Homo sapiens: one gene and its partner. The protein of the gene in region 2 interacts with the protein of the main gene of each other region in a pairwise test. Each region holds a gene or a part of one and is shown on either strand. Other genes may lie near its edges.

Region 1 (3,500 bases), on a different chromosome or scaffold from region 2:
GCTGAGGTGGGAGGATCGCTTGAGCTCAAGAGGTGAAGGCTGCAGTGAGCCATGACAGTGCCACTGCACTCCAGCCTGGGCAACAGAGTGAGATCCTGCCTCAAGAAAATTTTTAAAAAGTAAAGAATGAGGCCAGGCGCAGTGGCTCACGCCTGTAACCCCAGCACTTTGGGAGGCTGAGGCGGGCGGATCATGAGGTCAGGAGTTCGAGACCAGCCTGGCCAACATAGTGAAACCCCGTCTCTACTAAAAATGCACAAAATTAGCCTGATGTGGTGGTGGGTGCCTGTAATCCCAGCTACTCGGGAGGCTTAGGCAGGAGAATCACTTGAACCCAGGAGGCAGAGGTTGCAGTGAGCCGAGATCGTGCCATTGCACTCCAGCCCAGGCAACAGTGTGAGACTTTGTCTCAAAAAAAAAAAAAAAAAAAAAAAAAAGTTAAGAATGATCTAGAGCTTGTAAACTTCTCTTGGACACAGTGAGGGCTTTCAGTACTTGTTTTTGTTTTTGAGACAGAGTCTCACTCTGTCGCCCAGGATGAAGTGCAGTGGCCCAATCTCGGCTCACTGCAACCTCTGCCTCCCGGGTTCAAGTGATTCTCCTGCCTCAGTCTCCTGAGTAGCTGGGACTACAGGTGCGTGCCACCACGCCTGGCTTTTTTTTTTTTTTTTTGTATTTTTAGTAGAGACGGGGTTTCACCGTGTTAGCCAGAATGGTCTCAATCTCCTGACTTCATGATCCGCCCGCCTCACCCTCCCAAAATGCTGGGATTACAGGTGTGAGCCAATGTGCCCGGCCTCACTTGTTTTCCGTACCTATCTCACCCAGCTTCATGGATTGTACACAGCAGTGCTCAATATAGGCTTGTTTAACTTAATCAGGCCTATGCAACAGCCTGGTGGGATCTCACAGTGGGATCCTCCTCAAGACCTCATTTGCCCCTGCCTACAACCACAAAGAATTCAAGGCAGTTCCTACCAGGAAACAATGTGAGATCCCAGAGTCCTGAGACTGGGATGGGATTCTTGGAAAGGTAAGTCTAGGAAGCATGGGTCCAAAAGGTTTTGGGAGGGAGTAAGTGGAAGCTAAGCTTGGAAGAATCTGTTCATTTTTCTGAGTTTTTTCTTTCTTTCTTTCTTTTTTTGAGACAGAGTTTCGCTCTTGTTGCCGAGGCTGGAGTGCAATGGCACAATCTCGGCTCACCGCAACCTCTGCCTCCTGGGTTCAAGCGATTCTCCTGCCTCAGCCTCCTGAGTAGCTGGGATTACAGGCATGCGCCACCATGCCTGGCTAATTTTGTATTTTTAGTAGAGATGGGGGTTTCTCCATGTTAGTCAGGCTGGTCTCGAACTCCCGACCTCAGGTGATCTGCCTGCCTCGGCCTCCCAAAGTGCTGGGATTACAGGCGGAGCCACCACGCCTAGCCTTTTTTTTTTTTTTTTAATCAAAGATATTATAGAGAAATAGAAGAAGAGCCAGGAGACAACTTTGGGCATCCAGGACACTGGCTTTCCCCGGCTCTTCCAGAACCAGCCCCCTCCCTGGGATAAAGGCGGAAAGGGATTTTCTGTGCCACTATTTCCAATGGAGGAGTGGTCCTGAAGTTCTGTATCAATAGCCACTTGCTACCAAGTCAATGAGAAGAGAAAAGAACCTGCCTGGTAGAGCACACCTCCTCATTGCTAGGTCCCTTCAGCATGAAATTTCTATATCTATCGGGGTCCAATCTCCAATCCCATCCTAAGACCTACAATATCAAGGCTCCTATACAGATTCAGGATCTGGTGAGGGGGGAGCTTTCAAGAGGAAACAGGATAGAAAAACCCAAGAGTCAAGGTGGTGGAAGAAGAAGCAAGGATCCAGGAAACTGCCATCCTAGTCTACACCCCTCCTCCCGTCCCTTTTTTTCTTTTCTTTTCTTTTTTTTTTTTTTGTGATGAGGTCTTGCTATGTTGTCCAGGCTGGTCTTGAACTACTGAACCCAAACCATCCTCCCACCTTAGCCTCTAGAGTAGCTGGGACTACAAGCACACACCCAGCCTAACATCCCTTTTTTTTTTTTTTTTTTTTTTTTTTTTTTTTTTTTTGAGATGGAGTCTTGCTCTGTCACCCATGCTGGAGTGCAGAGGCATGATCTTGGCTCACAGCAACCTCCACCTCCCAGGTTCAAACGATTCTCCTGCCTCAGCCTCCTGAGTAGCTGGGACTACAGGCACATGCCACCATGCCCGGCTAATTTTTGTATTTTTTTTTTTTTTAGTAGAGACAGGGTTTCGCCATGTTGGCCAGGCTGTTCTCGAACTCCTGACCTCAGGTGATCCACCGGCCTTGGCCTCCCAAAGTGGTGGGATTACAGGCGTGAGCCGCTGCGCCCCATCCTAACATGGCTTTTGATAATCACCCCCACACAAGTCTCTCTGCGGCCCTTACTGCTCTCAGCCACACAGCCTCCCTCAGGAGAATGAAGGTTCATCGAACTCACCTTTCTGCCATCTCATAAAAGATCATCCGGTCAAAGTTGCTGGTGTGCTCCCACTCCTGCACAGCCAATGGCAGTCCCTCCTCCAGGGTCATAGTGGGCTTCAGCCGGGCCAGGGAACGAAGCACTGGGCTAAAACCCCCATTGAGTCAGTCACATTCTAAAAGTGTGCTCCCATCCACCTGCCCTGACACCTACATCAATAACACATCCCCTGCCCCTCATCAAATCTATTGTGCCCCTTAGGGCCTGTCGTGTCCCACTTCTGATTAGACTTACAGACGCTCAACCTCCCATCCATTCATCTACCATACTCGCCCCTCTTCCTGTTGAACTTTACAACTAATATAAAATCAAACAGACAATTCTTCTCCCCACCTTTTAAAATCAATGGCAACTACCACCCCTAATTATCACAGTGCCATCCTCAATTAATTATTAGAAAGGGAGGACTCGCGTTATTAAATGAATGGGATTTGCTATAAAGTATGTTTAACCTTGTCCAAAGGCTCTTGCATTTTTTCTTTAAAGGCATTTGCTAACCCAAAGGAATCTCTAATTAAAGGTCATGTGGTGTTTTTATTTATTGGTTTTTCAGTCTTTGTTTCCAGATATTCCCCACAGACAGTTAAATGCCAGTACTAGACCCCCACTTCTAGAGGGCTCTTGAGCCCTTCCTAATCCAGAAGAAATCAAGAGCCCAGCCTAAAGCAAGGGCTTCATTTTTGTCTCTCTGACTCCCTTGGAGTCCTCAGACATTATTGGGCATCAGAATCGCTTGGGGAAGCTCGTTATAATCAACTTGCAGCTCCCCAGGATCCCACAACTGAGCATTTTAGGAGCTTCCCATGTTGCAGTGGTCTGGACTGCCTCTTGTGGAAGACCCTGCCCAGAGCCCCTGAGTGTGAAGCACAAGCAGACCAGGACCCAAAGCAAATGGATCCCATGCAAACCTTGAGAGCCCACATTGGTTCAAGATTTTGAAATTTAGCCTGCTAGGCTCCAAGAGCGAACTCAGATC
Region 2 (5,413 bases):
ATACTTTTGAGTCTTTTGAGACAGTGAATACAGGAATAAAAATAACTTTTCCTAAGGTCATCTTAATGCATTATTTTGTACAATGTATAAGTGTGGTAAAACTCATTAAGTACTCTACTGTTTGTGATGGTCTCTATTTGTTTATTTACAAGGAAAGCCATGGTGTATGTATTAGTTTTGTGCCATATTCTCAGGCAGCAGCTTTGAGTTAGGGTTTTGCTTTTCTTTTTGTAAATAGTTGTTTTCCTGTATTTGCTGGGCCTTAGATGTGTACTTCTAACTTTTTGAACTTTTCACTAAATATACAAGTCTGTAAGTGGAATATTTTTTGTACAGTATATCTGTAGTATGTTTTAAAACTTAAGGGGTTTTGCCGTCTAGAAAACATATACAGTTACACAAAAAGCCAAGAGATATAAGAAACCTGTTATTGTAAGATGGGTGTACCCATTTGAATTACCAACATATATAGTGTGTTTTTTAAATGCAGGGAATGGGATTAGTGTGGAAGGTGCCCTCCTCACAGAGCAAGATGTTAACCATCCAAAACCAGCAAAAAGAGCTCGGACCAGCTTTACAGCAGATCAGCTTCAGGTAAGCATAACAATGAATTTTTTATTTTTGAAGCCCCTCCCAACCAAAAAAACAAAAAGTAACCTCCATGCTGCCCAAAAACATTTTTATGTTTTCTAAAAAATTAGCCTATGTGTTTTATGAAAACTAATTTGGTGAATATATGAAAACATACTTATTGCCCTAAAGTGTTTGCATTTCTAGCATCATAATATAATATGAAATAGTCATTCAAGTTTTGTTTCCCTGGGGTCTATTGGTATCAACATCAAAGTGGAAACAAAGTATTTTGTCCTGACTTCCTGATTGCATCGTTCTGAACCAGGCATTTATATTACTACACATAATTGCAATGGAAGACAAAATATTTTGAGACTCTGAAGAGAGACATACATGTCCCATGTGAGTCTATGGGACGCTAATGTGTTAGTCTTTGTAACAAACTGCAATGAGTCATTTAATGAACACAATTGTACAGTTTTTGAGTAGGAAATAATTGAAAGTGCCTTAAAGTAAATAGGAAACTACTGGTTGACTACAATTGAGCAGATTCCTTTATGTTTTTAAAGGTGGTAAAGGGAGTACTTCTATAATTTGATATTAAAGTTTTATTATGTCCCCTGAAAAGGGAGGGATTTTTTTTAGCTTAGTTGCCCTAAACATGATTGTTATAAATTTGATTTATACAAATTATCAAAATAATTAAATTACTCTTTGCTTTATAAACCTATATAATGATTCCTTCTGGCATTTTTGCAGATAATGAAATCATATTTTCTAAAAGATTAATGTGGCTGAGGTATTTGTTTCATGTTAAGGAAAAGTAACATTTGTTGAACGCCTATCACACTGCTGGGTACCTTATACATAGTATCCATCTTAGCTCAGACTTTAAAGGACATTTATGCAGTGTTAACAAATGAATAAAAGTAACTTTTTCGAAAATCACGTTTAGTATTCTAAGACCTGCCAGTATTTAAGATGGATACAAGTGTTTCAGGAGATAATTTTTATTTTGAGAATGATTTAGAAAAGAAACCTTGATGTGACACACATATTCCAAGGGAACGTGGCAATGGGAAGCACTCTAGCATTAAAATCTAGATCCATTCAGAAGAATTTTCCAAATGGATGATTGTTTCAGATTTCTTAATTTAGGCATAAATTCGATTTCTTAATTTAGGCATAAAGTACATAGTCAATAAGCAAAAAATGAAAGATAAGCCAATTGAAAGAAATATCTCTGTTTGAGCCTTGCTTTCTGGGTTCTTCATTGGATTATTATGAAGATCACACAATGCCCTGTCAGAAGATGTGAGTACTTCTGAAAGACCTGGAAAAATACTCAGTCACTAAAGGTGTCTAGTTAAAATAGAATCTCTAATATAAATCTGTTTTCACAATGGTCTGTTCCCATGAAGGACTGGCTGTAATTTTAATAATTACAAGGTTGATAACTTTCATTTGATATAATAATTTATTATTAAAAATAAAATTGTGAAAATTTGAAACCACTGTAGATAGACACTTTTCTATGGGAAAATAATTACAAATACTAATTAAATAAAATGGGAATAATATTTGTGGAGGTCTTTTTATGCCAAATCCTATACCAGGCATTTATCTACTTTATCTCCTTTAACTTTTACAACAAACCTCATTCAAGAGTGCAGGAACTCCTCAAAGCAAACCACCAAGGGAGTGGTTGAGAAGAGATTTGGAACCTTCTCCTCAAACATCTGGTCTCTTCATTTTGCTTGATCTTCCAGGAGACCATGAGTGGAAGTCTGTCTTATCAAAACTCCAATTAATAGCAGCAGCAGCTAAAACAAAAGAGTGAGATTTTGAATCTTGTAGATAGCCTTATGGTTAAACATGCATAAAATATTTAAGCCTTACATTATGGTATGTAAATGTGATCTAAATCATAAGTTTTAAAAATTGTATATCAGAATTATAGGTTTTAAAAAATGAAAGCATATTACCATTTTCAGATTACTGATGAAAGCATAGGTAATATGCTTTCAAAGTATATTCTCATTCAATATTTATTAGCATTTTATCTTATGGAAGGGGTGGCTGAAACAAATGAGATACAATCTTTGTCCTAAAGTGGTTCTTTATAATTTAGGAATCTGAAATAGATATTTTAAAAAACTGAATCATTTATTTTAGCCAGACACTCTAATAAATCGGTATCCTTATTGTCAAACTCTCCTACATTTAGGAATGCTGAATATTTTCAACTAGAGCTTGAATTTGGCAAGATAATAAAATATTACATGTGACCAGTGAGTAAGTCAAGACTATCTAGTCAGTACCTGCTTTGGACAGAGGAGAGTTAAAATGGAAGGGATAAATAAGAAAATTTTCCAAAATTATTCTATAGAGATTTATGGGGAGAAAAAATAGTTTAAGACTCAGAGGATGTATTGGCAAATATATTTCAAATACCGTCCCATTTGTAGAAATGATATTTAAGAATTTCCTGCTAATATTATGGATTGCTTATTCTATGTAGAAGCACTCACTTAGTGATTATTAATATTAAACACGCCAAAGTTAGCTCCTGCTTTAGTCTGTTTTCAGATCGAGTTACTGCTATGCAGCCTCCTGACTTTTCTGGTAGATCTCCTGGCCTAAAAATGATGAGTGTCTACAGAGGCTCACTCCTTGTCCACGTTAGAAGAACTTGGAAAAGGAGTGAAGTAGGCTTCAGCAGCATTAGTGCCTAGAGAATAGTGAAACTAAGTAGAAATTAAAAGTACCTCTTTTTTCTTTTTGTGTGTGTGAGACTAATCATTGATACTATTGAAAGGAAGAACAATCAACTCATCTTACTTTTCCTTTAGAATATTTCAATTCTAAATGATCAGAGTTGTTTTGCTTTACTCTTTAATGAGAAATTACTTAACTAAATACAATTTGATTGCAGTTAAATTTGTGAATTTAAAAATGCATTTATGAAAGGCATGAAGTTTCTGTTTTGTAAATTATTAATAATGACCTTACAAAATCCCCAAATCTGTTCAACATTTTTCTATTTGAAAAATTAAAAAACAAAGACATAATTTGCTCGTTCTTTTTGGGGTTATTACATGTTCAACTGCATAGAAACATAACTCTATTTTCACAGGAAGATACCAAAGTAACACATTTGGAGTAGGAAAGAAAGAATAAAGTGAACTGAGCAAGAATAAACTTTTAAGCCAATTCTGCCCTTTTTTAAAAGCAAAAATCCATGTTCTGTTTACAGTGAGTCTGTAGATACAATATAGTTAGATGGGAAGCCAAGAATACTTAATTCTAGAAGGGTAAATTTGTAAATCTCAAAATTTGTAAACCTCAGAAGGTTTCCCAGAACAATATTGGCCTTTTTTTCTACACTGTCTTCAGATTTTCCTTACATTGCCAAGTTTTACTCTGTCAGAAACTCTTAACATACTCTCTGACAGAAAGGGAGTTTAACTCCTAGGGATACGAAAAATAAGACATTCCCCTTGATCTCAAGGAACTCACTTTCCACTATGGAGATAAACTTGAAAACAAATTATTTAGCTACCCTGTGACAAGTGCAGTGGCAGAAGATAGCATTATATGAGGAGCATAGTGGAGAATGCAATTAATTTTGCCTGCTGAAAAGAGTGAAGTCCAGCAGTGCTTGAGGTCTTTAATAGATTGGTTACCCACATCCTATGCCTGTAGACAAGCACAATCACATTGGGTGCCAAGCTCTTCTCTCTCATTCTTCATAATAATACATTTTTTACATTTTGTAATGCTTCCCTCAGTTGACTGACTTTTAGTAATAAAATTCAAGTATCTCACTTAATTCTCATAATGATTCTCTTTTCTGAAAGAATTCAAAGTTTTTGGCTTGTGCTTATATTCTGGTACTCTCTCCCACACTACTCTTCTCCCTTTATCTTTTATTATAGGTAGTCATTGGCATGTCGGCATCTTTCTGCCAGGAAATTAAATCCAAAGAGTTTTGTTTCATGTTTCACTATCTCTTAGCACTTGGCATAGTGGTTTCAATCCAAAGGCTTACATCAGAATCACCTGTAAGCTTTTAAAATATATACATGTTTAGACTCTGGTAAATTCTTATTCAGTGGACTGGTGAGTGTCTCTTTTTAGACACCTTTTTTTTTGCATAGAGCTAGTGCTCAAAACTATGATGGAGTTGTTACAATTAAGTGGAATCCTTCTGTTGATCTGTATACTATTAGGTATTAGGGGCCTTGAACATCTTTAGCTCAGGAAAGGTTGGAGACAAATGTGATATGATTTTTGTATTAAGTTTTCAAATGTTGGCAGTTTTTAACAAAATGGAAAAAACAATAAATGAAACTCTTGCTATTTGATTTGTGGGTTATAAGATTGAAAGAAAAGAAAAGGTGAGCTTATTTTTAACAGCATAGTTGAGAGAGTTTTACATTGAAATGGATTTTTTTAAAGTTCTCAGCATAGCAACTTGTGTATAAATTTACAAAATATGCATTCGTTTTCACTTACCCATATTTCCCCATACCGATTTTCAAGTAACAAAAGTATCCCATGTTCTTGTGCATGTCTTACCTCTTATGATAAAAATGCAGGAAGAAGACTGAGCTGCTTGTTTTTAGCTATTTACTACATACATGTTTTAAACAACAGGTTATGCAAGCACAATTTGCTCAGGACAACAACCCAGATGCACAGACACTCCAGAAATTGGCAGAAAGGACAGGCTTGAGCAGACGTGTGATACAGGTGATTACTTTACTTTTTTTTTTTTTTAAGGTTTTTAAAAAATAGATATTGGGTCTCCCTATGTTGCCCAGACTGATCTTGAACT

The links. The genes of interacting proteins can lie anywhere in the genome.
Region 1: the proteins of LHX8 (region 2) and NUTM1 interact in binary tests that used the Homo sapiens proteins (3 or more experiments, as listed by UniProt).

What each region holds. Positions count from the first base shown.
Region 1 is NC_000015.10:34,349,815-34,353,314, reverse strand, and holds part of NUTM1 (NUT family member 1), read right to left. Parts: intron 2,612-3,500; coding exon 2,483-2,611; intron 1-2,482. UniProt on the Homo sapiens protein: Plays a role in the regulation of proliferation. Regulates TERT expression by modulating SP1 binding to TERT promoter binding sites.
Region 2 is NC_000001.11:75,143,355-75,148,767, forward strand, and holds part of LHX8 (LIM/homeobox protein Lhx8), read left to right. Parts: intron 1-490; coding exon 491-594; intron 595-5,232; coding exon 5,233-5,328; intron 5,329-5,413. UniProt on the Homo sapiens protein: Transcription factor involved in differentiation of certain neurons and mesenchymal cells.